Regions from separate parts of the Homo sapiens genome. Here region 2 is linked to region 1. Evidence: fine-mapped expression QTL. A gene starts in region 1. The other region holds a variant in brackets. All regions are shown on one strand. Distances are from middle to middle.

Region 1 (17,024 bases):
ATCCCAACCCATGAATTTATCCTAAGAAAAAAAAAATTTAAAAAGTACACAAACATTGTTCATGAATGGCTAGATACGCACATACGCATACATATGCAGCCCTGTGTCCCTGTGTGTATGCACATGTACATTATATATATATACATATATATATATATATATATATATATATATATAATTTTTTAAGATGAAGTCTTGCTCTGTCACCCAGGCTGGAGTGCAGTGGCGCCATCTCAGCTCACTGCAACCTCTACCTCCCCGGTTCAAGAGATTGTCCTACCTCAGCCCCCCGAGTAGCTGGGATTATAGGCGCACACCGCCATGCCTGGCTAATTTTTTTGTATCTTTAGTAGAGATGGGGTTTCACCATGTTGGCCAGGCTGGTCTCGAACTCCTAACCTCAGGTGATCCGCCCACCCTGGCCTCCCAAAGTGCTGGGATTACAGGCATGAGCCACCGTGCCCAGCCTACATGTGCATATATACACATTCATGTAGACATACACCTTGTTATTAGAGTTTTTACAAATACGGTCTCATTCAGCAAAAACTATGTGAGGCCATACATACTTTCCCCTTAATATGTTGTGAATACATTTCTATACTAATAAATATCTACACCCTGATTTTTTGAATAATTTTTGTTTAGTGATTTTAGATTTACAGCAAAGTTCCACAAAGTTCCCATACTCTTCCCCCACCTTCCCCTAATGTGAACATCTTACATAATCATGCTACATTTGTCAAAACTAAAAAGTTAACATTAGTAAAACATTATTAGCTGGACGACAGACTCTATTAGGATTTCGCCAGTTTCCCACTAATGCCCTTTTTCTGTTCCATGATCTCATCCGGCATCCCACATGGCATTCAGTCTCCGTCATCTCCTGAGGCTCCTCTGGTCCCTAACAGTTCTGAGTCTTTTCTTGTTTTTCACGACCTTGACACATTCGAAGAGTGCTGCTCACGTATTTTGTAGAATGCCCCTCATCTGAGTTTGTCTGATGTTTTTCTCATGAGACTGAGGTTATTAGTTTTTGGGTAAAAGATCACAGAGGTGAGGTGCCCCTGTCATTGTATCAGGGGGTACCCAGTAGCCACAAGACTTACCACCAGCGATGTTGAGGGAGCATCTGCTGAGTTTCTTCACTGTAAAAGGACTGTTTTTCTTCTTTCCATAGTCCATTAGAGGATGAGGATGAAGTTCTGCCTCTTGGAAGCGGTGGTTATCTATGTGTATTATTAGAATCTGATTTTACATGACAGAACAATGTTTCATTTTATGGATCTGCCCTCATTTATTTAGCCAGTACCCTAATGTCACACACTTCCATGACTTTCAGCTTTTCTTTTACAAACAAAGCTGCAAACCACAGCAGGAGCTCAACTTCAAATTCAAAAAAAATTGTGGTTTGTTTTTTTTTCTTTTGAGATAGGGTCTTGCTCTGTCATCCAGGCTGGAGTTTTAGTGATGTGATCACAGCTCACTATAGCCTTGAAATCCTAGGTTCAAGCAACCCTCCTGTCTTGGCCTCCCAAGTAGTTAGAATTATGGGCATGAGCCACCATGCCTGGCTAATTTTTAAAAAATGTTTTTGTAGAGATGGGGTATTGCTATGTTGCTCAGGCTGGTCTGGAACTCCTGGCCTCAAGCAATCCTCCTGCCTCAGTCTCCCAAAGTACTAGTATTACAGATGTAAGCCACCACATCTGGCCTCAACAAATAGTTTTCAAACAACTTCTCTGTAACAGACACTGCACACTCTAGTGAACAATGTTTGTATACCTCTTCAATGTTCTTTTTTCTTCTTAGAATAAATTCACAGGTTGGGATTACTAGGGCAAAAGGTAAGCACATTGTTAAGGCTCTTGATAAGTATCACTAAACAAAGCTCCAGGAAACTTGTACTAATCTGCTCTTTGGATTGACAATTTTATCTTTTTCAGCCTTTTTTTTCTTATTACAAAAATAATTTCTGTTTTTAGGAGATAACTGGAAATCACTCACTGGGCATTTAATGATATTAAAGAATTATTGTTTTTTTAGGTATGATAATGGTATTGTGGCTACTTTTTGAAAATAGTTCTTATCTTTTACAGACACACACAGTAGATGAGGGAGTATGGTTGAAACAAGACTTGTCCTGAGTTGATATGGAAGCTGGGTAATGGATACATCCACCTTCATTATATGATTTTCTCTATATTAGTAAGAAAACAAAAGCTTTTATTAAAAATTTTAAACATGATATAAATCTCTAGCTTAAGTGTGAGTCCCCATTCTTTCACCTCCCAGGGTTAACTGCAATGAACGGTTAGGTGTATGTGCCCCTGACCTTCTCCATGTAAACACTAACTGTGAATATTGCTAACACACACACTCTTAAAACAAGGATGAGCTACTACAATGCACACCATTTCTCCAACAGCTTTTCACTTCACCATATTTTGAGATGGATGGCCACGTCAACACTATCTCAGTCTTTAACAACTAGCCCCATGGTACTCCCCTGTATCAAAGAGCCATAATTTATTCATCCGATCCTCTAATGATAGACAATTGGAGTATCTCCAATTTTTGCTATTAAGAACAATGATGGAATGAACATCCTTGTACATAATATCTGTGTACCTGTGTGAGCAATTTTACAACCTATCTTTCTAGAAGTGGAATCACTATGTCAAAGTGGTCACAGACTTAAAATTTAAATAACATGTCCAACTTGCCCTTCTGGTGGACTTTCTGTGTCAAGTGCACTACATTCTCTCCTAGTGCACATCTGGAGACTATTGTCATTTGGTGCCTGCTGTAGAAAAGCCTCATGGCGTCACAGCTGGAAAGGGCCTCCGAGATCTTGTGGTCTTGCTTCCAGGGAAGGGTGGGGCCCAGCCCCCGATGCTGTCAGGGCCACGTGCAGCTCCCTGGGCTGGAGGTTGTGTAGAGCAGTGCTCACGAAGATACTGCCCATGTCTGAATCCCAGGCTTACCATTTACTGTTGTATGACCTTGAATACTTGCCTTGTCCGTGCCTCAGTTTTCTCATCTGTAAGCTGAGGATAATACTAATTCTGGGGTGGCAACTGGAAAGGGGTTAGGAGATTTTTCTTGAAGCTACATTAACAAAGTATATATTTATTTGGGGTGGCTTTCAGGGGATTGATGGATGATGGGGGGTGGGCACTAAGGACTCCCATCAGACACCACCAGCGCTGCCAGAGCTAATTTCAAATGATGACAGCTGGACTTAGTGAGATTCGACGTGACGAATGCCCAGCACACGGCACACAGCCTGGCACACTGTCAGTGCTCGATGGTTGTGAATTCTTGAATGCTGACAGGTGCTGTCTGGGACAGGGAGACCAACATTTCAGAGAGACTGTCCAGGAGAGGGAGGCCCGAGCAACAGGAAAAGAGGGGACCCAAGAAACAGCCTAATCCAGCCCGCCACTTACTACTTAAATAAAGTTTGATTGTAACACAGCTGCGCCCCTTCATTATGTAATGTCTATGGATGCTTGCACTTGACAATATCAAAGCTGAGTAGTTTCGACAGAGACCATATGGCCTGACAAGGCTAAAATATTTAGTATCTGGCCCTTTACAGAAAAAATCTGCCAACCCCTGGCATAGGGGTTATAGGCATACTAATACATGCTGATAGTTCTTGAGCTCACACCGTGTTTCAGGGACTGTTCTAAGCACGTCACATATATAAATTTCTTTAGTCCTCACAATACTCGTATGACATGGCTACTATTTATGGTAGCTAGTCTCAATGGTGGCCCCAGTGAACCACGTCTCCTGGGGCTGACGCCTCTGTGGGCCCCCCACCTCGAGTCTGGGACATCCTGTGCCGTGTGCTGACTAATGGCATGCGGTCGAGTGCCAGGCCTGGCATTAAGGAGGATGGGTACTTCTGCTTCTTTGCTCTGGGGAACACTGAGGTGCTGCACGCAGAGCAGAAGGGGAAGCCATGGGGAAAGGAGAGGCTCTGAGGCTGCAAGGAAAGGACGAAGGTCCAGCCAGCCCTGTCTCAGTCCAGCCTCCAGTGACCTCACCCAGCTACCATGCAGCCACACTTACAGCAAGCAAGACCAGCAGGACTGCCGGGCAGAGCCCAGTCCACTCTCAGAACCAGAGAGACAAGAAAATAGTGCTCAAGCCACTCTGCTTTGTGGGGTGGGGTGGTTCTGCAGCAATAGCTGGCTGAGACACACCACACCAGAGCCTTCGCCTTTCCACCCTCCTTTATCCAGTGGTTCCAACTCCTGTGTGGTTATGAGAATCCTCCAAGTAGCCTTTACAGACACCAATTAAATCAGAATATCTGGAAATGGACCAGAATAGGAATCCTTTTTTTTTTTTTTTTCTGAGACAGAGTCTAGCTCTGTCACTCAGGCTGTAGTAGCACTGTGGCACAATCTCGGCTTACTGCAACCTCTGTCTCCCAGGTTCAAGCCACCCTAGTAGCTGGGATTACTGGCCTGCACCATGATGCCTAGCTAATTTTTGTATTTTTAGTAGAGATGAGTTTTGCCATGTTGGCCAAGCTGGTCTCGAACTCCTGGCCTCAAGTGATCCACCTGCCTCGGCCTCCCAAAGTGCTGGGATTACAGGCCTGAGCCACCGCGCCCAGCCTCCAGAGTAGGAATTTTTTTAATCCTCCAGGATTTGAGAACCACAGCTCCACCCACTATTTCCAAAACTTGCCTAGCAGAAATATTTTAAAAACAGATTCTTCGGCTGGGCACAGTGACTCATATCTGTAATCCCAGCACTTTGGAAGGCTGAAGCAGGAGGATCTCTTGAGCCCAGGAGTTCGAGACCAGCCTGGGCAACATAGTGAGACCCTGTCTCTACAGGAAAATTAGCAAGCAAGGTGGCACACTCCTGTAGTCCCAGCTACTTGGGAAGCTGAGGTAGGAGGATCACTTGGGCCTGGGAGGTCAAAGCTGCAGTGAGCCCAGATCACACCACTGCACTCCTGGGCGACAGAGTAAGACCCTGTCTCAATAGCAATGACAAAATAGATTCGTGCACTCCAACAGATACACAATTCCATGGGAGGCCCTGGAAACCTGTAGCATTCACACATTCCTCCAGATGAATTTTATTATCAATGATTAGCAGAAAAAGGGCGAGATGAGAGCCCAGCTCTCAGGTGTGGAGAACTGCTTGGCAGTTTCCCATCAGGTTAAACATTCACTTCCCAAAACTTAGCCATCCCTAGTCTTGGGTATTCCCAATAGAAATAAGTGCTTGGCCGGGCGCGGTGGCTCATGCCTGTAATCCCAGCACTTTGGGAGGCCGAGGCAGGCAGATCACGAGGTCAGGAGATCGAGACCATCCTCACACAGTGAAACCCCGTCTCTACTAAAAAAATACAAAAAAAATTAGCCGGGCGTGATGGCGAGTGCCTGTAGTCCCAGCTACTCAGAAGGCTGAGGCAGGAGAATGGCCTGAACCCAGGAGGCGGAGCTTGCAGTGAGCCAAGATCGTGCCACTGCACTCCAGCCTGGGCGAAAGAGCGAGACTCCATCTCAAACAAAAAAAAAAAAAAAAAAGAAAGAAGTGCTTATGTCCACCAAAGACAAGCACGAAGATACTCGTAGCATTATTCATAATGGCCCCAAACTGGAAACATCCTGAATGTCTATCCACGGGAACATGGACAGATAAATTGTAGTATTTCCACACAAGGGACTACCAGGCAGCAATGAAAAAGAATGAAGTACTGATATATACAGTAGCCGTGTGGATTGAATTTCACAGGCATACTGTTGAATGAGAAGAGCCAGGCATAGCTCGCAGCGGATTCCACTCATCTATGGTGATGGAGATCAAAATAGTGGTTACCTCTGGGTATCTGTGTGTAAATTCTGCTCCCTAACAGGACACAGGGAAAACTTCCCAGGATGGCAGTCAGAGCCACAAATCAAGACTTACCTGCATTTGGGGCTCACCTGAGCGGCCTTTTCTTGCTTGCTTGCTTATTTGCTTTTTTGAGATAAACAATATACATTGAGGTGTACACAATGCAGTGAAAAAAGCATACAGCCCAGTGAATCTTTACATGTTTACACTGAGTATTGAACTTCATGCAAAGTGCTGTTCTAGGCCCCTGGAAAGGGAAGCCAAGGTTATGAGACACAGACTGTGTCGGTATGGATTTCATAATCTGGTGGAGGAGATATTACAATACAAGGTGGAACGATGACTTTTCATCCATTCACCCATGGGGTGTTTTTCTTGTTTGTTTTGTTTTTTGAGACAGAGTCTCACTCTGTCGCCCAGGCTGGAGTGCAGTGGCACGATCTCGGCTCACTGCAAGCTCCGCCTCCCGGGTTCATGCCATTATCCTGCCTCAGCCTCCCTAGTAGCTGGGACTACAGGCGCCTGCCACCAAGCCTGGCTAATTTTTTGTATATTTAGTAGAGACAGGGTTTCACTGTGTTAGCCAGGATGGTCTCGAACTCCTGATCTCATGATCCGCCCGCCTCGGCCTCCCAAAGTGCTGGGACTACAGGTGTGAGCCACTGCACCCCCATGGGGTGTTTTTGAGCCCCTGCTCTATGCCAGGCACTGAACTAGACAGGGGAAATGGAGTAGCAACCAAGACCCCACTCTACCGTGAGGGTTTTGGAGAGGAGCGCAACTAATTGATTCTACCTCCTAAACATTTTCCAAATTCATTCCCTTGCCTCCCACTGACCCTATCCTAGTCAGGCTGCTACCCTCTCTCCTCTGCAGCTCTCTCAGTCCTTGCCCCTGATTCATTCTCCAGATCAGCAGCCCTTACCTAAGTGCTCAGCCGAAAAAAATTCAAAATTGATGACTGCCCCTGGCCCAGGCAGCTCCGGTGCTGGCCTGTGTGGGCTCAAATCTTCACTTGTAGGATCTATAATTGTGACCACAGGCAAGTTCCTGATATGTCCTGAGCCTCGTGTGTGTCTTCTATAAAATGGAGATGAAATAGTATTAACAACAAAAACCATACCTGTCTCCCTGAAGAGGCTAGGCTTGCACCATCCACTACTCCTCCCAGTGCCTCTCAATGCTGGTCACTCCTGCCTCTCTGAACTACCCAGTGATAGAAAGCTGCTTCTGTTCATGAACACACCCTTTGGTTTCAAGGCCTGAGACTCTATAATTGGTGCCCCAGTTTGACGTGTCTTTCCCTTCACCTTCTCTGGCTGGGTCTTACTCAGCTCCAGACTCGGCCTAGGCATTGCCTCCTCCAGGAGCCTTCCCTGAAGCTGCCTACGGGGCTGGGTGCCCCTGTGTGGGCCCCCACAACACCCCGGATTGAACTTCTCTGTCTCCTGTTTCTGTTTGTCTCCACTTGCTTGAGTGTGGGCTCCTGCCGGGCAGGCTGCCTCTGAGTTGCTGAATGAAACTCTTCTTTGCGCCCCTACTGTGGACCCCTCCAGTCCAGTGCAGGTGCTGGATGTGCCTACTGACCTGAGCAGAACATGCTGAGCACTTTAAGGGAGGTGGCCTTGAGGAATGGGCAGGACATCAAGAAAGAAAATATATATATATATATATATATATATGTATGTATATATATATTTTTAAACAAGTTGTACATGCAGACAATACTAAATTCAGCAGAAACAAAAGGGATTGCAATGAAAATTAAAAGTAGGTCACCTCTCAACCACCCAGCTCCCCTCCCCAGTGGCCACCTCTTCTATCAGTTTCTGAGTATTCTCTGCAGGGCAGAATTGTCAGTCTTCCGTCCCTTTTTTATTTTGCAAAAATTTAAAGCAACAGAAAAGTTGCAAGAATAGTACAATAAGGCCGGGCGCGGTGGCTCACGCCTGTAATCCCAGCACTTTGGGAGGCCGAGGCGGGCGGATCACGAGGTCAGGAGATCGAGACCATCCCGGCTAAAACGGTGAAACCCCGTCTCTACTAAAAATACAAAAAATTAGCCGGGCGTAGTGGCGGGCGCCTGTAGTCCCAGCTACTCGGGAGGCTGAGGCAGGAGAATGGTGTGAACCCGGGAGGCGGAGCTTGCAGTGAGCCGAGATCCCGCCACTGCACTCCAGCCTGGGCGACAGAGCGAGACTCCGTCTCAAAAAAAAAAAAAAAAAAAAAAAAAAAAAAGAATAGTACAATAAACACCTTTTGCCTAGATTCACCAATTAACATTATGCTACTTAACAAGCATTATATCATTTAATGTTCACATTAATTAATTAATGCCAATTTTGTACATGAGGTCACTGAGGCACCAGGCAGGTTAAGGGACTTGCCCGAGGCCACAGAGCTCCTGCCTGGTGGAGCTGGGCTTTCCCCCTTAGGCTGCCAAAGGACTTTGATCTGCCTTCCCACAGCTCCCTTTTGAGGAAAAGCATTTTCTTACACTAAGTTGAAATCCACCTCCCTGGGATATTTACCAGATGATCCGTGGAAAAGTACACAGCTCTGGAAGCATTTGCTACTTCTCCTCCTAAAACCTCCTCCATTCCCTGAGCGACAGCTGCTGTGGCTGCCACTACCACATGCTCCAATGTCACCTCCTCCGTGAAGGCTGGGTTAGCTCACCCCCCTGTTTAAAGACTCACCATGACTCCCAGCTGCCAGTGGGATGACATGTGCACGCCTGGGCTTGGAATACAAGGCCTGGGTGATAGAGCCCTCTTCCAATCCCTCTTGCTCCTTCTTCCCCTATCTCCACTTCCAGCCACACTCAACCCTCTCACTGTCCACTTAAACTTCCCCTCCTCCTTGAAGCCACCCGAATTTTTCTAAAGAGCGCATTTCTCCCCTCTCTGGGCTCCTGCAACCTTCTGCCTGAGCCTTTGACAGCCTTTTCCAGGTTGTCTTTTGGCCAGGAGGCTGGACAATGGAGGACGGGAGTGACAGCTCGGCCCCTTCCTAGCAGAGTGATCCTACACAAATTACTCCAGGTGTCTGACCCTTCATTTCCTCAAGCACATCATGGGGGAAAGAATGCCTAGCTCAGCACCTGGCAGAGAGTCAGCCTTCGCTCATCTCCCCTAATGGAGCTGACAGCTCTTCAAGTCCGCTGACATCTTCTCTTAGTCATCCCTTGAAATACTACCCGCTGTTACTTCTCTGCTCCTCAGTCTCCTCCTATGTAAAATGGGGATGAGAAAGGAGAGGTTGCGAACCTTTAATGAGCGAGCCCTTGGAGTATCCAGCCCTTCCCGACGCTAACTGACTCCTACGAGGGGGCCTGGTACACAGTAGGTGCTAAACTAATCCTCTCCGAGCTGGGCTTGGGGAAGATGCCTCCGTTGGGTGTACAGCGTGGGCGCGGGAAGGCGAGCCTGGGAGCGAGGGGGTTGCAGAGAGGCAGCCTGAGGTCGGCTCCGCCTTCCCCCGCATCCCCCGCCCGGGCCCTGCAGCTGTCAGCCCGGCCGGCCTCGGCGCCAGTCCACCAAACCTGAACGTCCCATGCCGGCGCCCCCACCTTCCCGGCCTGCACAACTTACCTTGCGCTCGGCGGCCCTCGGTCCCGCCCCCGACTGCCATTGGCCCAGAGGTTCCTTTGTTAGCGAGAGCGCGCCAACCCCATTGGCCGGTGGGGCTGCCGATCGCGTCGGGCGCGGCCCCGCCCCGTACGCCCCGGCACCTCCCCGCGCCCGGCCGCCCGCCCGCCCGCCCGCCCGCCCGCCCCCGTAGTGCGTGAGGCGCTCCGGTCCCATTTGCAGCGGCCGCGGGGCGCCGAGGGCAGCTGCGGCGGCGCGGACGAGCCGGGACGGCGGCGACCGGAGCCTGAGAGGCGGGCCGCAGCGGGAAGCAGCGGGCCCGAGGCCGCGTCCATGGGCCCGCGGCGGCCGGGCGGCGGCGGTGCGGGCGGGAGCTGGGCGTCGCGCGCGCTGTGAGGCCCGGGCGGCTCAGGAGCCTCGGCGCGTGCAGCGAACCGCCCGCCGGGAAGGAGGCCGGGCCGGGCCTGCGGCGGGGCCGGCGAGGGATGCGGCGCGGCCGCGCTGAGCCCCTAGCCCGCCGGGAGCGCCAGGCCGGCCAGGCCTGCGCCGCCGCCGCCGCCGCCGTCGCCGCCGCGCCGACCATGTCGGCAGCCAAGGAGAACCCGTGCAGGAAATTCCAGGCCAACATCTTCAACAAGAGCAAGTGTCAGAACTGCTTCAAGCCCCGCGAGTCGCATCTGCTCAACGACGAGGACCTGACGCAGGTGAGCGACTGGGGCCGGCCCGGACACCTCCGTTCTGGGAGCCGCGGGTCGGCGGCCGGGGCGCCGCCAAGGGCTGCAGGGAAAATAAAAATGGAGCAGGGAAATGCGCGAGTCCTGGGGCATGGGGACGGGGACGGGAAGTGCATTGACAGAGCTGGGACAAAGGGAAAATCCTCGAGTATGCCGAAAAATAACATCCTTTCCCGTTCCCATTGCCCGGCTGTGTGATTCATGCTTTTTGGGTGACTCAAAAGTGCCTGGTTTCGCTTAGTAGGAACAAAGCGCTTAGGGATTGCATGCCGCTTGACGGGACCCCCCTGAGATTCTGGCTTGGGACTGGACTTGGATTTGTCCAGCCAGAGTGGCCCAGGGGTCGGATTGTTGGGGAGGACTGTGGGCTTCCGTCTAGTGGGACGCAGCCTGCCCCGATTCTGAATCATCGTCACTGTCAAGCACTGGAGAGAGGTGAAGGGGTGTCCAAATCTGGCGAGGAGGGTCTTGTTCTTGAACTTAGTTTGGCAGGCCGTAGTTTAGCGGGGAGCTGGGACCAGTTCCCTGGTCACTGGCCGAGGGGTGAGGAGACCTGTGGGTCCTCGGGAAAGTTGATTTCTGTCTCCCAGCCTTAACTGTCAAACAGGGCTTTGAACTAGTTATGACTCCCAAACGTGCATTAGAGTCATAGCCATTAAACACAGAGTTCTGGGGCCCCCGCCCTGGAGTGACTGGGGAGATGGGGAATTTGTATTGATGAAAGGCTCCAAGAGGCTTGGCTGCAGCCCCCATGGCCCTTGGGAACCCCTGCAGTGATTGCTGTTTGAACTCCTAGTGTTCCAGGATTCCGAGCCTTGTGTGCACCTCCTTGGGATGTGCCTCGGTACCCTCCCCACGGCCATCATCTCCATCCTCTTCAGAGCTTTCTCTCAGCCTCCTGAATGAAGCCAGGGGAAGTCCCTTCACATTCCAGTCCAGTGTGACCTAGTTGTAGCCACTCCTGTCGCAGAAGAACCCCTTAGACTGAAAACGAGTGAACGGGCCTGGTTGTTTTTAATGCCACTTCAGTGCACCCAGGGTTTGACTTGTTTACATGGCCGACTGGAGTAGGGTGGTGGGGCAGGGGTTACGGCCTGGGGCACGGGGCCTTTCTCTGAGGTCAGGTTTCCAACTGCCAGGAAAAGATTCCTTTCATCTAAACCCCAAAAGCTTAACGAAACACTCAAGGCTGCAAAGTCATAGATGGTTAAGATACCAAGGGTTTTAAGGACGGTCAGCTTGGGACGGATAGAACTCATTTACCTCGGAGGGTGTTTTGGAGTGTAAAGGAGAACTTGATTCCTTCTTCTCATCTGGATGCTTTTTTGGATGAAACAGTTTATGCGATGAGGAGTTGTTAGGAGACTTTGCTTCAGGTCTTGGCTGTCACTTCCAGCTGTGTGACCTTGAACAAATCCCTTTACTTCTGTATCTTTTAATTTCCTTATCTGTAAATTGGGAATCCTGGTCCCTGGCTTACCTCCTTCACTGAGCATTTGTGAAAAGCAAGAAATGATATTTTATGAAACTTTTTTCTCTTACAATTTAACAAACCAAAAAAACCTGCCACTTTAAGAAGTTTCTGGGCAAGGGTTGTTCTGAGAGAGGTTTGTAAGTTTCCTGGTTATTCTAAGCAACTGTCAAAATTGGTAAATTTACACCTCATAGGGGCTGTTTTCGAATTCTTAAGCTTAGATAAACTAGGATGGAATCTGCATGTTTGAGTCCAATCTGCTAAGATTTTTTTTAATCTGTTGATTATTAATTGGATTCACGGGGAGAGGCAAACTTAAAATACTGTACTCTCACTGTATTCAAAGTTGAATTGTGGGTTTTGAAACAGGCCTGAGACCTTCAGGGCACAACTGGAATGGTAGTTTCTGAAATAATGAGTGGGGTTATTTGTGCTGGGAGAGGTTAGCCCAGCATTCTACCTCCTGGGATCTTTCAGGAAGAAACTGCTCTTGAAAAGAGAGGAGGGAGACTCAGGGCTGTTGCCAACAGCCTTCTCTGCTGCTCTCTGCATCCGGCCCTCCCTCTCACTCTCATCCTTATGGCTCCATTAGAAAACCTCAACCAATCGGTTCCCATCAGTCTCCCCCAAGCCCCTGCTTCCTGCTGCCCCTCCCAGCCTGGAGCTTATTTTAGACCGTCAAAGCTGGAAGATACATCAGCCACCATCGAGGCCACTCCCTCCTTAAGAGGAGAGGATACTGGGCCCAGGGAGGTGGTGGGCAGCCTTGGCCGGCTTTTGCTCTGGAGATGTCATCTTCCCAGGAGCAGACATTTCTCTGAGCCTTTTGGTTTGAGGTTTATTTCCTCAGCTGTGGGTTTTGTTTGTTTGTTTTTCCCCTAGAGAGGCACAGAAACCTCTTGCAGGGACTGTATTATGGCATCAGACCTGGAAGGGACTTGGAGATCAGCTAATGTAACCACTTCCTCTTACCGGTGAGAAGATTGAAACCCAGAGAAGGGAAGTGACTTGCCCAGTTCAGGGATGGAGCCAGGATTCTGAAGCCAATGTTAGTTCCCCTACTCCTGTTCAGGGTCTACAGTGGCCACACCATGAGCACATGATGAGGACAATAATGTCAGGGATAGTTATGTTGCAGGAGGTGCCTTGAGAATGCTGGCTTGGAGCAGTGGAGTTCTTTGCCTTTTCCTCCTCACGGAAATTTGGAGTAATCTGGGATAAGTGATAAGTGACCGTCCTTTATTACTTGTTCCAGGCCCCTGTTCACAGAGTGTCATTTATCCTCCAGTTTTCCTGTGCATTTCTCAGCGACATACGGACCCAAATATACAGTTTTTTTTTTTTTTTTGAGGCGGAGTCTCGCTCTGTTGCCCAGGCTGGTGTGCAGTGGCGCGATCTGAGCTCACTGCAAGCTACGCCTCCCAGGTTCATGCCATTCTTCTGCCTCAGCCTCCCGAGTAGCTGGGACTACAGGCACCCGCCACCATGCCTGGCTAATTTTTTGTATTTTTAGTAGAGACGAGGTTTCACTGTGTTAGCCAGGATGGTCTTGATCTCCTGACCTCGTGATCCGCCTGCCTCGGCCTCCCAAAGTGCCGGGATTACAGGCGTGAGTCACTGTGCCCAGCTCAAATATACAGTTAAACCTTTTTATCCTGAACTGTGTGCATGTATTTGCTCTGCGACATATTTTTTGTTTTCTGCTTATCAGCATATCTTTACGTTCTTTTCATGGTGTTGCATATAAAGATGCCAGAACCATTTTGCATATTAGGCCTTTAGGAGTGTACTATAATTTAACCCGTTTCCTTATTGATAGACATCAAGGTTGCTTATGGGTTTTGCTGTTACATACAGTGAATGTTTCGGCAAAGAGTCTTATAAATACTTCTGGGTGTGTGTGCGTGCATGCATGAATGCAAGTATTTCTCTGGGGGCAGATACCTATAAATAGAATGGCTGGGTTGACATCAAGCGCATAAATTTTTTTTTTCAGATACCACGAAATTGCCTTCCAAAAAAGGCTGTGTGATAACATTTCCAGGACTGGATATTATCAAATGATTTAATTCTCTAATAATTTTCCTAATTACTCATGAAGTTGAGCCTTTTTTATAGTATTTACTGAGTATTTTTGTTTCTTTTGTGGATTGCCTGTTCGTATTGCTTGCCCATTTTTCTGTAAGGTTAGTTTTTCCCCCAGTTGATTTGTAGGAGCTTTCTATAAGTGCTTTAGGTCAGGGGTCTGCAAACTTTTTTGGTAAAAGGCCAAATAGTAAATATAATTTAGTGTCTGTGGGCTATATGGTCTCTGTCACAACTGTGCAGACTTTGCCGTCTCATCACAAAGGCAGCCGTAGACAACACATTAACGAATGAGTTCGAATGAGTTACTGTGTTCCAGTAAAACTTTATTTACCGGCAGGGCGCAGTGGCTCATGCCTGTAATCCCAGCACTTAGGGAGGCTGAGGTGGGTGGATGATCTGAGGTCAGGAGTTCAAGACCAGCCTGGCCAACATGGTGAAACTCTGTCTCTACTAAAAATACAAAAACTAGCTGGGTGTGGTGGCACATGCCTGTAATCCCAGCTACTCCTTGGGAGGCTGAGGCACGAGAATTGCTTGAACCCAGGAGGCAGAGGTTGCATTGAGCCAAGATCGTGCCACAGCACTGCAGCCTGGGCAACAAAGTGAGACTCCTTCTCAAAAAAGTAATAATAATAATAAATTTAAAAAACTTTATTTACAAAAACAGGCAGCTGGCATGATGTGTGGCCTGTGAGCCATAGTTTGCTGACCCTGAACTAGATATTAATCCGATGCTTGCCACGTATTGCAGGTATTTTTTCCCAGAATGCCACTTGTCTTTTTTGTGTGGTTATTTTTCTTTTTCATAATATAAATGCAGTTGGTCTTTTTTTTTAATAGTTTGTAGTTTTAATGTCATGTTTAAGGCCTACTTTCCAAGATTTGTAAAATAATTTCTCATATTCTTTTATAGCTATTTTTATACTTAGCTTTTTAATCTATCAGACTTGTTTTTTAGGAAAATAATTCTGGTTAAAGGCAGAAGATCTACTGGAGGCTATTAAACTGGGTAAATTACAATCAAGGCATTCTCTCCAGATCAGTGCTGGTGAGGATGGAAGGAATCAGACTCTAGGGACAGGATGTTGTTGGTTGATCAGAGGTGGGTGTTGAGGAACCTGGGGTAGTTAGAAGTACCTTTAACAGAGATTGAGAAGAACAGATTTGGAGTAAACTTGGGGGATGGGGAGGGGTAAAAAATAATATGGTAAGTTTGACCCTTATGGACGTAGAGGGAGGCTGGGTTGGAATTCTTAAGTCTTGGATGTGGAGGTGGTTGCTGAAATCATGGGAGTGAGTGTGAGCACTCAGGAGGCTGCATAGAGTGAAAGGAGAGGAACCAGCCTAGGAAGCCCCCATGTAGTGGGCAGGCAAAAGGGGAGCAGGTGCAGAGGCTGGGAGGTGAATCAGAGGGGTGGGCATTAGTGGGAGAAGCAGGTCTGGAACCCAGGGTGCTCAGCTTCTACATCCGCGTGTTGATCTGGGGGTGATGTCTCTTTCTCCTGCTGACTGTGTAACTTCAGGCATTGCCTCTGTGGAAGGAGCCTGCAAGCCTGTTTCTACTTCTTTGTCTAGCCCTGTTTTTTTGTGGGACCTTGGCTGGGTCATTTTCATTGCTCAGGCCTGTTTTCCCATCTGGAAATGAGCTCGGTCTTGATCTCTCCCAGGGTTCTTAGTCTTCCTGGTGTGATTCTGCCCTTGCTGTGCCCATACCCCACTGCCAAGGCTCCAAAGCTGCGGGGGCCTCAGGTGGGAATTTCAGACATAGAGGGTGTGGGCCAGGACGAGGTCTCAGGGAAGCATTTCATCAGGTTTCCCTTTGTTCCTGTAGACATTCGTAGAAGTTCTAAGGCATAGGACTTCCTGATTTGACTTAATGTGTATCTCAGAAACAACGGGGAGATTTCGCATCCCCCCCTTGTAGAAGATCTGTAACAGGAGTTGGTGTGTTGCTTGGCAGGGAGCGTGTCAAAAATCTCAGACACACAAAATCCCATTTCAGACGGCCAAGCACCATGACAAATGCTCAGCGTTGTCATCAGCGAAACCCAAATTGAAACCACAGTGAGATATCACTTCATACCTGTCAGGATGGCTAGAATTAAAAAAATAAGAATATAACATGTTGGCGAGGATGTGAAGAAGTTATAACTCTTGCACGTTGCTGGTGGGAATGAAATGGTGTAGCTGCTGTGGAAACAGTTTGGGGGTTTCTCAAAAAGTTCAGCATAAAACCTACCACGTGAGCCAGCATTCCCACTTCTAGGTATATGCCAAGAAGAATTGAGGACAGGTGTATTCAAACAGATACTTGTATACAAATGTTCATAACAGCACTACTCACAATAGCCAAACGGCAGCAACAATCCAAGTGTCCATCCACTAATGCGTAGATAAGCAAATCATAGTGTATCCATACCATGGAATATCATTCAGTTCTAAGAAGGAGCGAAGTACTGAGACATGCCACAACATGGACGAACCTAGAAAACATTGCGCTAAGAGGCAGACATGAAAGGTCATGTGTCACATACTGTGTGATTCCATTTATGTAAAATGTCCAAAACAGGTAAATCTGTAGAAACAGAAAGCAGATCGGTTGTTGCCAGAGCCTGAGGGTTGGGTGGGCAATGTGGAATGACTGCTAATGAGACTGGGGTTCTATTTTGGGGGTGATGAAATGTTTTGGAACTAGATAAAAGTGCTGGTTGCACAGCCTTGTGAAATGTACTAAATGCCCCTGAATTGTTCACTTCCAAATGCTTCTTGACTTATGATGGGACTTATGGTGGGGGTACATCCAGGTAAAACCCATCAGACCTATCACAAAGTCAAAATTATAAGTCAGGGACTGTCTGTACAAGAATCGCTCTCTCACACACACACACCTGCCTTCTGCTCCTTGTGTCACCTGGAGTGAATATCTGATTGTTTCTAGAGTCTAGACCAAGGCTTGGCAATTTTTTTTATAAAGGACTCTTCTTTTATCCTGGGGAACTCCTTCCCCAAGCCACTCTTTCCCACCTGAATGACACAGTTGGACCAGGTCGGTGGTTTTCAAGCTTTCATCAAATCCCGGAGCCTTTTACTCAAAAGAAATCTTGTATATTTTAGGTTTTGCAGGCCAACAGGCAAAATCGAGGAGGTTGTGTAGGATATAGCCACTTAAAAATGTAAAAGCCATTCTTGGTTTTGGGGTCTTAGAAAAGCAGCTGGTGGGCCAATTTGGCACAGGGGCACAGTGTGCCACCCCTCAGACCAGCC
Region 2 (14,608 bases), 150 kb after region 1:
TAGGATTGCTTGAGCCCGGGAGGTCGAGGCTGCAATCAGTCATGATCGTGTCACTGCACTCCAGCCTGGGTGACAAAGCAAGGCCCCATATCAGATATAGATATACTTATCAGACCCCCCCTGACCATTTAGATTGGCAGTGCTTTGAGAAATGCACTATGACCTTTCTGTGTCAATGGGAATATACAGAAGGAACATTCGGGACCCCGCTGTCCCCCACAGCCTCATTGTTGTCTCCAGGACACTGCTGGGTCACACGAATGCTCCAGGACAGACAGGGACCTGGAGTGCATCAGGATCTGACCAGATAGGAGTTTTTGCCTCGTGTCTGGGTGCTACGATTTTGTGCCGTTCTCTGAGGTCCACCACCTGCCCTTCCTGGCATGGTTTCCTTCGTGACCATCCCTGCTGCCCCTGGGGGTGGACCCCACTGGCCCTTCTGCAGACAGCTCCCTGCCTTCTGCCCTCCAGGGGGTTCTGGCCAGAGTCCATGCTTGGAGACAGGATCATCTGCCTTCAGCCCTCACAGTGCTTTAAATTAAAGCAAGTTTGCCCATAGGACAAAAGAGCATTTGATTCCCTTTTTTCTGTCACATATCCCTTGAGGCTGGACTTCAGGAATCCTGGAAAATTAATATGAGTGCAGCATGTGAGGGGTCAGAGACAGGCCAGCAGGGCGTCTGCATTCCTCCCTGCCACAGGTCTCTCCCCAGAGGCTGGTTTAGTGTAGGGTATTGCCAGGAAACGGACTGAGGCTGCTTTGCTAAGAGCTCCTGAAAATGCCCTGGGCCTGTCCTGGCGTTTCTGAAGAGCCCTCATACAGGGACAGCCACCATCTGGGTCAAGGAAGTCTGGGTTCCCTGCTGGTGGGCTCCATCCTGCGATGGAGTGAACCAGGCGAGAAAGGATGACGATGTTCTTCATGTTGCACCTGGACATGCCCCAGGAACAGAGACTTGCCCAGGTGGCAACACTGGCACAGATGTTGACGGCTGCCCAACTGGTGCCACACTGAGCAGGGAGCCTTGTGCTGCACAGGGCTGGGCCCTCTCTCCAGTTTCCTTCCTGCAGGCATCCAAATACCCTGGAAGGGATTTAACCCCTGAATTCCAGAGGGAAGAAAGAAGAACAGTGAAGAAGTAGAACTGGTTTCTGTATGGGGAGAGGAAAGTCTTAGGGACAGCTGCAGGCGGGGTCTCAGGCTGCTCCTTGGCACCAGCTACACAGTAGTGAGCTTTCCCAGCTTTACCGATGAGGAAGAAGTTCAAATAGATAGACTTCAGCATTTTAATTATTTTCCTATAAATGTATTTATGTGTAGTATGCTAGCACCAGCCAGTAAGCTGTGCCACACATATGAATGGGAAAGCGAGGCAGTTGTGCTCGTGTGAGTTTCTGCAGGCTTGTGGGTAATTACCTTGTGTGCACGCCTGCACGTGCAGAATAGTCACTTTCTGCTGGTCAGTTTCTTTATCCACCCATGGTGCCCCAGCCCCAGGCAGGTGTGGAGACCAGCATTTCAGAGGACGCGCTGTCCACAGCCTCCCGGGTCTGAGTGGATCATTGGGCAGGGGTGGAGACAGTGCGCTGCCCTCTGAGCTGGAAGCCTGTGCTTCAGGGAGTCATAATGGGCCTGTGCTAAGTGGGTGATGCAGTGGACATCCCAGGGCGACTAGAGGTGGCAGTATCGCGAATTTGCAGGTTTATTGAACAAGAGGTAACATCGGAGAGGATCTTGCCTTCGGATTCAGCAAGTATGAAGGCAGAAGAGCATGGAGAGCAAGGCCCCACAGCCTGCTTAGTGAGTTGGAAGGCCCAGCAAGAACCTGTTTCTGCAGCAGCCACCAGCTCCCATCACCCCTTGACCCTCCAGCTCATGCTGGAGAAGAGGGAATTTTGGCTGTTTAAAGAACACAGTTGTGAATCTCAGAATGTGCCTGAAAGGAATACTGACAGATAAGGCCGGAAACAAAACTGATGGCTTGAAAAACATTTTTATGGAATGTATTTACTATCATTTTGTTTTACTATAGAGGTAGATGGGACTCTTAACTTTTGGGTACATGGAAACATGCTGAAAACTGAACACAATCCTGATCATCACTCCTGCCTGGCTGTCTCCTGGGAGGCTGCCGGGTGCCACGGAGCTGGGACACAGCAGAGCCCGCTAGGTGTTGCAGGGCCCTGGAGGCCAAGGCCACCCTGTGTGGGGTCCCTGTTGGCAGCCAGGTCCCTACACAAACAAGTAATCCTGTTTGGCCTCCTAGGTTTTGCATATGACCTGCAGCCTAATTTGGGGTGTAGGGGAAGCTCTGCTGGCCCCTGCTCCTTTGTATGTTGGGTGACTTTAATGGCTGGCCACATACCCCTTTCTCCCAGCTACTCATTCACTGACTTGGGTAAGTTCTAAGACAGTTCGCACTTAGAAAAGAATGTGACACATCAACATTAACTTTTCCTGAAAAGAAGAGTTTGCCTAACATGGTCCTAAAGAAGCTTGGAATTTATAAGACTTTCCTTTATAAGATATAGTGGGGGTTTTTTTGGGTGGAGGGGGGTTGTTTTTTGTTTTTTGTTTTCAAGACAGAGTCTCGCTCTGTTGTCCAGGCTGGAGTGTAGTGGCATGATCTCGGCTCACTGCAACCTCTGCCTCCCAGGTTCATGCCATTCTCCTGCCTCAGCCTCCCGAGTAGCTGGGACTACAGGTGTCTGCCGCCACGCCTGGCTAATTTTTTTGTATTTTTAGTAGAGACGGGGTTTCACCATGTTGGTCAGGATGGTCTCGATTTCCTGACCTCGTGATCCGCCTGTCTCGGCCTCCCAAAGTGCTGGGATTACAGGCGTGAGCCACCACGCCTGGCCTATAAGATACGGTAAAAAAAAAAAACTGTGACCCCTTTGTCACTAAGGGAGAAAGAAATTAAGTATTGTCAAAGTTCTATAAAGAATGGAAATGTATGATATTATACTTCAAAGGAATTTGATGTTGAAATTTTAAAGAAAATTTGTCATGTTGATGAGAAGCTTCACTTTCCTGGGAACTTCATTCGTTTTAGGGCATGAGATAAAAGTCCTGGCTAGGGGAGCCATAGGTCTGTTGTACAAGGAATTTGCTTTCTAAACAAGTTGTAACTTGCCCTAAGGTCCCTGTTGGAGCACTAAGAGGTGACACAGGCCAGAGACAACGTTTCGTTTCCCCTTCCCTGCAAGCTGGGATCAGCCCTGTGTTTTCTCCTTTCAGCTGAAGTGAGCGAAGGTTCTCAGTGCTGGCAAAAGAGCCCACTTTCTAAAAGGACTTGGGAAGAAAGCTGCTGGGAACTTGCTTATTAAAAAGTTCCTTAGAATTAAGGTATCTACCCACTGTTTTCGCACCTTTCACCTTCCTGGGCTTTCCTGCCCTCCAGCATTCTTCTCTAGAGAGGTTCCTAGCCCGCTCAGCGCGAGCGTCTCCAGTAGGTAATAGCAGCTGAACGTGGGTTTTCCACGGACTTCAGGCTTGGAGGTGCCATATACAAGCACACTTCTTCCTTCCCCTGGCTTCTCCATGCCACCACCCACTTTAAAGATGTAAACTCAGTAGATTTTTCATCCAGTGAACGGTCATCTTCACATCGAAAGGTGAAGGCCACCACTGTTCTCAATGCCAAGCAACAGAACGTTCTGAGATGGCCGTTCTTCCTTGCACAGCAGCTACGGCAGGTTGTTCTGCAGCCACCCCTTAGAGGGGGCTCTTCGTTTTACCTTTGTACAGTTCTTGTGTTTACACATTTGGGCCAAACAGCTTTCAGCAAGGGCATGTGTCCACAGCTGATGGGCAGTTAAGAACCAGCCTGAGCTGAAGGCTAGTAATACCGTGCTGTAGGCTCTTTAAAAGGAAAGCCTGGCATAAACCCAGCATGGAAAGGAACATTATCAGTTATCTCAAATTTTGTCTGCCAGGGACAAGACCCTGTTCATTCTTTTGCCCTTTTCAGAACTGTGAGCTTCAAGTATTCTTGCTTCTCTGTAAAGGGAAGACATCTCCCTTCTCTGAAATCCTTCAACAAAAGAAAAGGCTCTTGGCAGGGTAGGGGAGTCAGTAGCTCAACACTAGATCATCCCTAGAGATGGGGCAAGTTTCTGTCTGAACACGTCTTGGGTCCGAGTCCTTAGGTGTTCGGATGCAGTACTTTGTGAATACTTAAGCTACTGCATGCTTGGTGTAGCTTGCAATTTCTCTGTATTTAAAAGCAGCTGTGTTTATTTTCTTCAAAATAACCTGTATATTATTTAGAGCAAGCAATGTAAATATTACTGAGAAGTTACTGCAGGGATTTTTGTGACAGAGTTTGTATGGGTTTTTAAAAAAATCTTAGACACCCCTTTTTAAGATGGGGAGAACAGGGTTGACTGCACCGTTGAAGCCCGCCCAGCATTATAAGGAAATGTTTTTAATGACTGCTGCATCTTTGTAAAACGTTTGGTCATCTAACAGATGGTTTTAAAGTGTACAATATCCAAAATAACGATAGCCCTGTATCCATACATTGTTTCATTGAAAGAATTCTCTATTGCCTCTTCTTGGTAGAGCCAGAGTCCTTAAGGAAAATCAGGAAAATTAAGAAAATGATGGTGCCATCTTGACCAGACTTCTGCACAGTAATTTAACGCTATCCTAGGGAGACTTGGTTGAAGGCACAGTTCTGGGATCAGGGTCTAAATGTGCAGTTTCTGAGAACCTTCAAGACCACTCACTGGGCAGGGCTCTGTGGAGCACTGGAGCTGTTTGGATTCCCCAGCCCTTTGGTCATATCCTGGAATTCCGTGGAGGCTGCAGAACTTAGATGCAGCTGTTTTTTACAGCACCTATTTTTGTCAGATTGGTAAGGAAACACTGAGTCACAGAATACTTAAGAATTGGAGACTCCAGTAATGTAGGATGGCCTGAGAGGACGTCCAAGTCCCAAGGGGTGGACACGGCATGTTCCTCGGGCACAGCCTCAGTGGGGGCCTTCCCCAGGCGCAGCTCGGCCACCTGAGGAAAGGGTGTTTCGGAGGCGCAGCCACACACACAGCGCTGGCAGCCTCACGGTCACGCCCATCACTCCCTGCCCCCCACTGCCCTTGAGAAGTTAGTGGTGTCACATCCTTAGTTTTATAGACAGCTAGGAATAGATTGTGAAGAACACTCAGTTCACTACTGTGTTACATTTATATCACAAGCTTCAATTAAAATGGATTTTAAAGGATTTTAGGATTTACCTTTAGTATTAACAACGTATCTACTGACATACTGTTAGGATTCAAAACCAGTTAAGTATAAGAATTACTTCATGTGGTTTTCCTAGGGTACAATTTATAAAAGGTAGAAAGCATCCAAGTGGCTCCTCAACAATTACAATTCTTAATGATTTTTCTCACAGCTGTGCCCTTCTGTCAGGGTCAGTGTCAAAATTCGTTATCAAAGGCAAAACCTACTGTGCCAAGCTGGGGCGCTATATGTGAACGGAGTGGAAATGCTTCAGTCACCTCTGCCGCAGCTTGTGATTCCAGCAGTTCTCACAAACGTTCTGTCACATGATGAAAAGAAGCAGCTTGTATAATTCCAACTGGTGTTTCATTTCTGTTCTAATGCTAAGTGGTAACGCTTAACAAACAGACTAAAAGCTGTGTGCAGAAGAAAGGGCTGAATGAGTACCGCCTCCCTAGGTTCCAGCACAGCGCTCGGGTCTAAGAAGTAGAGCCCCGGGGTAGGGTGGGCCATCCACTGTCAGGCCAGTGTCTCAAGAAAGCCTGACCAGCTGAGCTGCTGCTTTTTTTTTGGGGGGGGGGGGGGGAGGGGCGTCTTGAGGCTTTTTTTTTTTTTACAAAGTTAGTTTGTGATCAACGATTCACTACAATTGAAGTGTTACTTTGTCAGAATATTTATTCCTTTGTGTGACATGCTAGATTCCCTGGATGTAGCTGATCATTTTTATTTTGTAAATATTACCTAACTTTACATAAACTATATCATAATAAACTATTTTTGCATCACCCTTTGCATGCTGTGTAATGAGATTTTGTTTAGTTGAGAGACATCTGCAAAATAAGCACGCAGGTCAAAAGGCAAACTGAACAGTAGCCTCCAGCTCTAGAGTGGGTTGATTTCAGTTTCATTACCTCCTTTTTTTTGAGACAGTCTCACTCTGTTGCCCAGGCTGGAGTGCAGTGGCAGGATCTCGGCTCACTGCAACCTCTGCCCCCGGGGTTCAAGTGATTCTCCTGCCTCAGCCTCCCAAGTAGCTGGGACTACAGGGGCACGCCACCACGCCCAACTAATTTTTTGTATTTTTAATAGAGACGGGGTTTCACCGTGTTAGCCAGGATGCTCTCCATCTCATGATCCGCCCGCCTTGGCTTCTTAAAGTGCTGGGATTACAGGTGTGAGCCACCGTGCCCGGCCTTTATTTTATTTTATTTATTTTTTTTGGAGCAGGGTCTCACTCTGTCACCCAGGTTAGAGTGCAATGGCATGATCTTGGTTCACTGCAGCCTCTGCCTCCTAGGCTCAAGAGATTCTCCCACCTCAGCCTCCCAACTAGCTGGGACTACAGGCATGCACCACCACACCCAATTAATTTTGCATTTTTTGTAGAGACGGGGTTTCCCTGTGTGGCCAAGGCTGGTGTCGAACTCCTGGACTCAAGCAGTCCTCCCACCTTTGCCTCCCAAATTGCTGAGATTACAGGCATGAACACAGTGCCAGGGCCTGATTACCTCCTTTTGAATTACAGTGGATTTTTTTTTTTTTTCTTTTTTGAGACAGAGTCTTGCTCTGTTGCCCGGGCTGGAGTGCAGTAGCGCGATCTCAGCTCACTACAACCTCCGTCTCCCAAGTTCAAGCGATTCTCGCGCCTCAGCCTCCCAAGTAGCTGGGATTACAGGCATGCACCACCACACCTGGCTTGTGTGTGTGTGTGTGTGTGTGTGTGTTTAGTAGAGATGGGGTTTCACCATGTTGCCCAGGCTGGTCTCGAACTCCTGACCTCAGGTGATCACCTGCCTTGGCCTCCCAAAGTGCTGGGATTACAGGTGTGAACCACTGTGCCTGGCCAGTTTTCAGCATTTTAGAATTACGGTAGTTCACATAAAAATTTGGATTTTACCTGTTCACACACAAGCCATTGTAAGAAATACTTTACATGCAGAATCTAATTAAGGTACACTGCCCCAGTTAAAGAAGCCTTCAGGGGCTAAAGGGACAACGAGAAGTGCTAATGGTGGTGATGCTTTTATTAATCAAGGTCTTGTAATTCCCCATCCCTGTCCCTCTTATTAATAGATTTATTTACAATAAAATTTTACCTTTTGCTTAAAAAAGAAACTGCATTTTACATCATGACCCAATATACACACACGCCAACAACCTGAAATTTAACAAAATAATGCACCCTTACTATATATACTTTGATGATTTCGTTCACTTTTAAAAATTCTGATTGTGACCCACTAAATAAATTTTAAATAACAAACAACTGGGATTTTTAGGTTGGGCGCAGTGGCTCATGCCTGTAATCCCAGCACTTTGGGAGGCTGAGGCAGGTGGATCACTTCAAGACAGGAGTTCAAGACCAGCCTGGCCAACATGGGGAAACCCTGTCTCTACTAAAAATACAAAAATTAGCCAGGCATGGTGGTGTGCGCCTACCTGTAATCCCAGCTACTCAGGAGGCTGAGGCACAAGAATTGCTTGAACCCAGGAGGTGGGGGTTACTGTGAGCCTAGATCGTGCCACTGCACTGCCAACCTGGGCAACAGAGCAAGACCCTGTCTCAAAAAAGAAAAACTGGGTTTTTTAAACAATATATTCACAACCTTTAGAATGAAATGGGTGAAATTTGTGGGAATCTAAACTTTTATCCAGATAACATTGAAAAAAAGTTGATTCTACCAATAAATCAATTTAAGAGGCCAGGTATGGTGGCTTACGCCTGTAATCCCACCACTTTGGGAGGCCGAGGCAGGTGGATCACTTGAGGTCAGGAGTTCAAGACCAGCCTGACCAACATGGTGAAACCCCATCTCTACTAAAAATACAAAAATTAGCTGGGCATGGCGGTACACACTTGTAATCCCAGCTACTGGGGAGGCTGAGGTGAGAGAATCACTCGAGCATGGGGGGCAGAGGTTGCAGTGACTGAGATCGCGCCACTGCATTCTAGCCTGGACTACAGAGTGAGACTCTGTCTCAAAAAAACAAAACAAAAAGTCAAGAAATGTATAAAACATAGCCAAAAAAAGTTAAGTACAGGCATAAAAAGATACACATTTTCAGTCTGCTATTCCAGTTGTCTAATTTTTTTTTTTTTTTTTTTTTTTTTGAGATGGAGTCTCACTGTGTCACCCAGGCAGGAGTGCAGTGGCGGGATCTCAGCTCACTGCAGCCTCCACCACCACCCACCCCCCGGGTTCAAGTGATTCTCCCATCTCAGCCTCCTGAGTAGCTGGGGCTGCAGGAGCACACTGCCATACCTGGCTAATTTTTTTGTATTTTTAGTAGAGATGGGGTTTCACCATGTTGGTCAAGCTGGTCTCAAACTCCTGATCTCAAGTGATCCACCTGCCTCACCCTCCCAAAGTGCTGAGATTACATGCATGCACCACCGCTCCTGGCCTCCTATGGTTTTAACATACGCTATTTTTGTAAAGCTATGTAAATGCAATTTTTAAAATCAGTTGGCATTTGAAAATCCAACACTGTTTCATAACAGCCTGGCGACAGAGCGAGAATCTGTCTCAAAAAAAAGAAAAAAAAAAAAAGGCCGGGCGCAGTGGCTCACACCTGTAATCTTAGCACTTTGGGAGGCTGAGGCAGGCAGATCACAAGGTCAGGAGTTCGAGACCAGCCTGGCCAATATGGGGAAACCCTGTCTCTACTAAAAATACAAAAA[C/T]TAGCCAGGCGTGGTGGCATATGCCTGTAGTCCCAGCTACTTGGGAGGCTGAGGCACAAGAATCGCTTGATCCCAGTAGGCAGAGGTTCCAGTGAACCAAGATTGCATCAGTGCACTCCAGCCTGGGCTATAGAGCTAGACTCTGTCTCAAAAAAACAAACAAACAGTGTGGTCTTGGCATAAAGAGAGATATTGATAAATCAGTGAAACAGAATTGCGAGTTCAGAAAAAGCGTTCTTACATTTACAGTCAATTGATTTTCAACAATAATGCCCAGACCATTCAGTGAGGAAACAATAACCTTTTCAACAAATGGTACTGGGACAACTAGACATCCACATGCAAAAGAAAATGAAGTTGGGCCTCCTACCTTGCACCATACACAAAAATTAACTCAAAACGGATCACAGACCTAAGTATGAGTGATAGGAATATAATATACAAGAATGGCCGGGTGCAGTGGCTCACGCCTGTAATCCCAACATTTTGGGAAGCCGAGGCAGGCAGATTACTTGAGGTCAGGAGTTCGAAACCAAGCCTAGCAAAACCCCATCCGTACTAAAAATACAAACATTAGCTGGGCGTGATGGTGGGCGCCTCTAGTCCCAGCAACTTGGGAGGCTGAGGCAGGAGAATCGCTTGAACCTGGAAGGCGGAGGTTGCAGTGAGTTGAGATTGCACCACTGCACTCCAGCCTGGGCAATAGAGTGAGACTGTCTCAAAAAGAAAAAAATTATATATATGACAGAAAAAAACATAGGAGCAAATCTTTGTGACCTTGGGTTGGGCAATGGTTTCTTAGCTATGACACCAAAGCACAAGCAACAACTGTAAAAATATTAATAGATTATACCAAAATCAAAAGCTTACATGCTGCAAACAATTCCATCAACACCTATTACCCAAAGAAGGGAAACATTTGCAAATGACTTTTTCTTTTCTTTGAGATAGAGTCTCGCTCTGTTGCCCAGGCGGGAGTGCAGCCTCAATTTCCCAGGCTCAAGCGATCCTCCCACCTCAGCCTCCTGAGTAGCTCAGACTACAGGAGTGTGCCACTATGCCCAGCTAATCTTATTTTTATTTTTTTTATTTTTTATTTTTGGTAGAGACAAGATCTTGCTATGTTGTCCAAGCTAGTCTCGAACTCCTGAGGTCAAGCATTCCTCCTGCCTCGACCTCCTAAAGTGTTGGGATTACAGGCGTTGGCCACTGTCCCCAGCTTGCAAATTATGTATCTGTTAAGGGATTCTTATATCCAGAACATATACAAAGAACTCTTAAAACTCAACAATAAAAAGACAACCCAAAAAAATGGGCAAAGGATTTGAATAGACATTTCTTCAAAGATGACATACAAATGGCCAATAAGCTCATGAAAAGACATTCATCATCTTAAGTCATTAGAAATGCAAGTCAAAACCACAATGAGACACCATACCCACTAGAAGGGCTATGATCAGAAAGTTAGATCATGCCATATGTTGGCAAGGATGTGGAGGAAAAGGAACCCTCATTCACTGCTGGTGGGAATATAAAATGATACTTCCATTTTGGAAAAAGTCTAGCAGTTTCTCAAATGGTTAAATAGTGTTATATGACCCAATAATTTCACTCCTAGGTGTATACTAAAGAAATGAAAACATGTCTGTGCAAACACTTGTACACAAATGTTTATAGCAGCATTATTCATAACAGCCAAAAGATAGAAATAACCCAAATTCCCACCAACGAATGAATGGGCAAACAAAATTTGTTATCCATACAATGGAATGTTATTCAGCCAAACTAAGAAATGAGGTGCTGAAACATGCTGCAGCACAGATTCCCTTGAAGCATGACGCGAGGTGAAGATGGCAGAGACAAAAGGCTGCAGAGAGGATTCCATTTCTATGAAATGCCCAGAGTAGGCAAATCTGTGAGACAAAGTAGACTAGTGATTGCCAGGAGCTGGAGGGTAGTACGGAGTGGGGAGTGACTACTACTGGAACAGTGTTTCTTTTTGGGGTGATGGTTACACAACTTTGTTAATATACTAAAACCCACTACTGAATCTCATGCTTTTAATGTGCAGATTTTATGGTATGTGAATCTTGATCAAGTGTGTTTTTAAAAACTGGGTTGGATCCTGGCAGCTCCCATCGGTGCTGATCGCAGCCAGCAGCCCGAGGCCTTTAGTGACGCCTTTCTTCAGCATCTGCAGACAGCGAAAAGCAGAGCTGCAGGTTGAAGGCTCAGAGTAATGGATGGAGCCCTAAAATGAGTAAGAATAGGTGCAGGCAGGGCCTGAGTGGTCACTAGAAAAGAGAAAGCAGAGTTGGTGCCATCACATACATCCACCTCATGCCTTATTCTGAAATTTGAGTGTGAGAATACATGTCGACACATAAGCCAGTCATGATTTTAAAGGCGTCGGCTGTGGTCTTGAAAAGAGTCATGTGGAAACCCATCATCACCTTAAGATTTTTTTTTTTTTTTTTTTTTTTTTTTGAGACGAAGTCTCGCTCTGTCGCCCAGGCTGGAGTGTAGTGGCACCATCTCGGCTCACTGCAAGCTCCGCCTCCCGGGTTCATGCCATTCTTCTGCCTCAGCCTCCCGAGTAGCTGGGACTACAGGCACCCGCCACCATGCCCGGCTAATTTTTTGTATTTTTAGTAGAGACGGGGTTTCACCATGTTAGCCAGGATGGTCTCGATCTCCTGACCTCGTGATCTGCCCGCCTTGGCCTCCCAAAGTGCTGGGATTACAGGCATGAGCCACCGTGCCCAGCCACCTTAAGATTTTGAGTGTAAGGATCTTCATGATGAAATTTCTGAAAATGGTCCATTCTCAGCTTCAATTTCTGAGACTGGAGAAGGATCCTCTAGTAGCCACACTGTAGCAGCTGCCCTGAGTCAGCACCTCCACTTGGACCCAAAGTAGGATGTCTCTCAGGCATGTCACTCCCAGTGACACCAGATGGGATCCACCCAGGGCTGCCTCTGCTGCTCATTGTTAATGCCTCTAAAGTCATCTCCATGGTTCTTTGGGCTTCATCTTTAAAGGATTCAAGTGACTGAGACTATCCCAGAAAACTATGCAGCTAGTGAAACTAGAGTACAACTAAGAACATTTTCAGACCTCCAGTGTGGATGACCTGGGCATAATCTCACAAACTGATGGGACTGCAAGGATTGTAAACTGAAATTGACATGAATATACTCTGTTGGATCAGACTAAAAAAAAAAAATTGGGCCCGGCACAGTGGCTCACACTGGTAATCCCAGCACTTTGGGAGGCCGAGGTGGGCAGATTATGACATTAGGAGTTCGAGACCAGCCTGGCCAACATAGTGAAAACCCGTCTCTACTAAAAATACAAAAATTAGCCGGGCGTAGTTGTGGGCGCCTGTAATCCCAGCTACTCAGGAGGCTGAGGCAGGATAATCACTTGAACCCGAGAGGCGGAGGTTGCCGTGAGCTGAGATCGCGCCATTGCACTCCAGCCTGGGCGACAGAGAGAGACTCTGTCTCAAAAAAAAAAAAAAAAATTGTGGGTTGCTTTAAAAACCTATAGAACTGGCTGAGCGTGGTGGCTCATGCCTGTAATCCCAGCACTTTGGGAGGCCGAGGCAGGTGGATCACCTGAGGTCGGGAGTTCAAGACAAGCCTGGCCAACGTGGCAAAACCCCGTCTCTACCAAGAAAAAAAAAAAAAAAATTAGCTGGACTTGGTGGTGGCACACGCCTGTAATCCCAGCTACTCAGGAGGCTGAGGCAGGAGAATCGCTTGAACCCGGGAGGCGGAGGTTGCAGTGAGCCAAGATTGCACCATTACACTCCAGCCTGGGTGACAAGAGCGAAAACTCCGTCTCAAAAGAAAACAAAAACCCTATAGAACCAACATAGTGCTTTAAAATATGGCATCATTGCATTGGTTCATTCCAACAACCTAGGAATATTCAACAGTGTGGGCAGACTGTTAAGGGCATATGGTACTATCAGAATTTTTTGTTTGTTTTGAGACAGAGTCAAGCTCTGTCACCCAGGCTGGAGTGCAGTGGTGTGAGCTTGGCTCACTGCAGCCCCCACCTCCCGGGTTCAAGCAATTCTCCTTTTTCAGCCTCCCGAGTAGCTGGGATTACAGGTACACACCACCACACCCAGCTAATTTTTGTATTTTTAGTAGAGACGGAGTTTTGCCATGTTGCCCAGACCGATCTTTTTTCTTTTTTTGAGACGGAGTCTCGCTCTGTGTCTCCCAGGCGATCTCGGCTCACTGCAAGCTGGGCCTCCCGGGTTCACACCATTCTGCCTCAGCCTCCCGAGCAGCTGGGACTATAGGCGCCCGACACCACGCCCGGCTAATTTTTGTATTTTTAGTAGAGATGGGGTTTCACCGTTTTCAAGCTGTATCACTGCCCGCATAGTTAACAACATTGAATCCAAACCACTAAGCTGATGAAAGCTCATCCCAGGAGACGAGGGCAATTAGAGGGGAATCTTCCTAGAGCCTCTTTTGTGACTGCTGAGCCTACTTGGCAAATTTATTACTTCTTTTAAAGTTTCTCTCTGAGAGGAGCCAAGACAATCTTGTAGGCAAAAAGAGGCTTCAGGTGACACACACACTACACAACCCCCTCCCCAGCCCTCATCTTCAGCGAGCCCCTGCCTTCTAGCATCACTCGCCTCAGGTGTTGGAGCAGAGGCCGGCGTGCAGTTCTAGGGTCTCCTGGGCATGCCTGCCTGTTACTGGCACAGCAGTCTTTACGTGTGGGCCAAGGATCTTCTATACTTTTAATAACGTCTTCCAAGATCGGGTGTCTGATGAGCAGGCACACCCAGCACAGTTTCAACAAGCAATTTATCCCCCAGTGTGCAGGCTCCTTCCTTACAGGCTGAGTACTATGGGGTTACAATCTTCCCAGACATTGCTTATTGGTTGTTAGGCGGGGGCTTTAGGTATTTTTTTTTTAGGGTTGTCTTGCTGCATTTTGTTACAGCCCACAGTGCATTGCAATCTTAGTCTGCTTAGGGGCTCTTCAAGTATTTGACTTATGACCTAAGTAGCTAGGCCAGCTGGTAGGAAGAGACAAAGCGAGCTATTTTGCAGGCCAGTAAACTTTCATTTTAAACTTTTTTGGTTCGGGTGAGGGCAACCAAGGAAGGGGGAAGGGGGCAGGCGGGGAAGCCGATAAGGCATCGGCTAGCCTGAGGGGCCTAGTACAACCCGTTTCTTCCGTAGTTTGCTGACCGAAGCCGATTCAAGGCACTTTGTCTTAAAAATGGACCACCGTATACCTTATTTCCTTCACCCAAATAACAGCTTAAAGTTTTACTCCTCTTTGAGTCTCCTGTTCTTTGACCAACAGTTTCTAAATAGCTGTATACTGCCCCCCCCCGCAAAATTATATTTAACAAAGAGGAGCCCCTACTTGAATGATTTAGCAGCAAGCTAAGGCAAAGACACCCAGCGCTCACATTCCAGAATAAGAACATGTTTATTCAGATGTGCCAGAAGTCCAGGGTCACGCGGCTTCGCATTTAGGAGATGCTTTACAAGCTCTCCCATTTTCTTTTCAGAACATACACTGGGGGAATTCACAAACTAAAACAATTTCTGGTGACTTCCAATCTATATATTATACTTTACAGCTTCAATTGAATTTTTTTAAAAGTTAACTTCCAAGCTGGCTTGCCTAACACTGTGAGTCAAAAGTAA

What was found. PIP is the estimated chance that this variant, and not a neighbour inherited with it, causes the effect.
Region 2: its variant is fine-mapped to the expression of MPRIP in whole blood (TOPMed, PIP above 0.99).

Annotation. Positions count from the first base shown.
Region 1 is chr17:17,032,804-17,049,827 of GRCh38, forward strand. It overlaps MPRIP (myosin phosphatase Rho interacting protein), which reads left to right and starts at 9,654. Exons shown (of 24, transcript NM_001364716.4): 1 at 9,654-10,168. The coding sequence starts at 10,046. It overlaps LOC124903938 (a long non-coding RNA gene), which reads right to left and starts at 9,522. Exons shown (of 3, transcript XR_007065644.1): 1 at 9,468-9,522; 2 at 8,978-9,105; 3 at 6,540-6,954. RefSeq lists enhancers at 3,797-3,856, 10,341-11,540 and silencers at 9,219-9,678, 11,352-11,646.
Region 2 is chr17:17,186,627-17,201,234 of GRCh38, forward strand. MPRIP (myosin phosphatase Rho interacting protein) reads left to right here. Exons shown (of 24, transcript NM_001364716.4): 24 at 1-6,017. PLD6 (phospholipase D family member 6) reads right to left here. Exons shown (of 2, transcript NM_178836.4): 2 at 14,369-14,608. Among named protein-coding and RNA genes, the nearest start is that of PLD6, 12 kb to the right of the region's middle. RefSeq lists enhancers at 4,505-5,172, 5,173-5,838 and a silencer at 6,009-6,098. The variant C/T (reference allele first, on the strand shown) is at 8,913.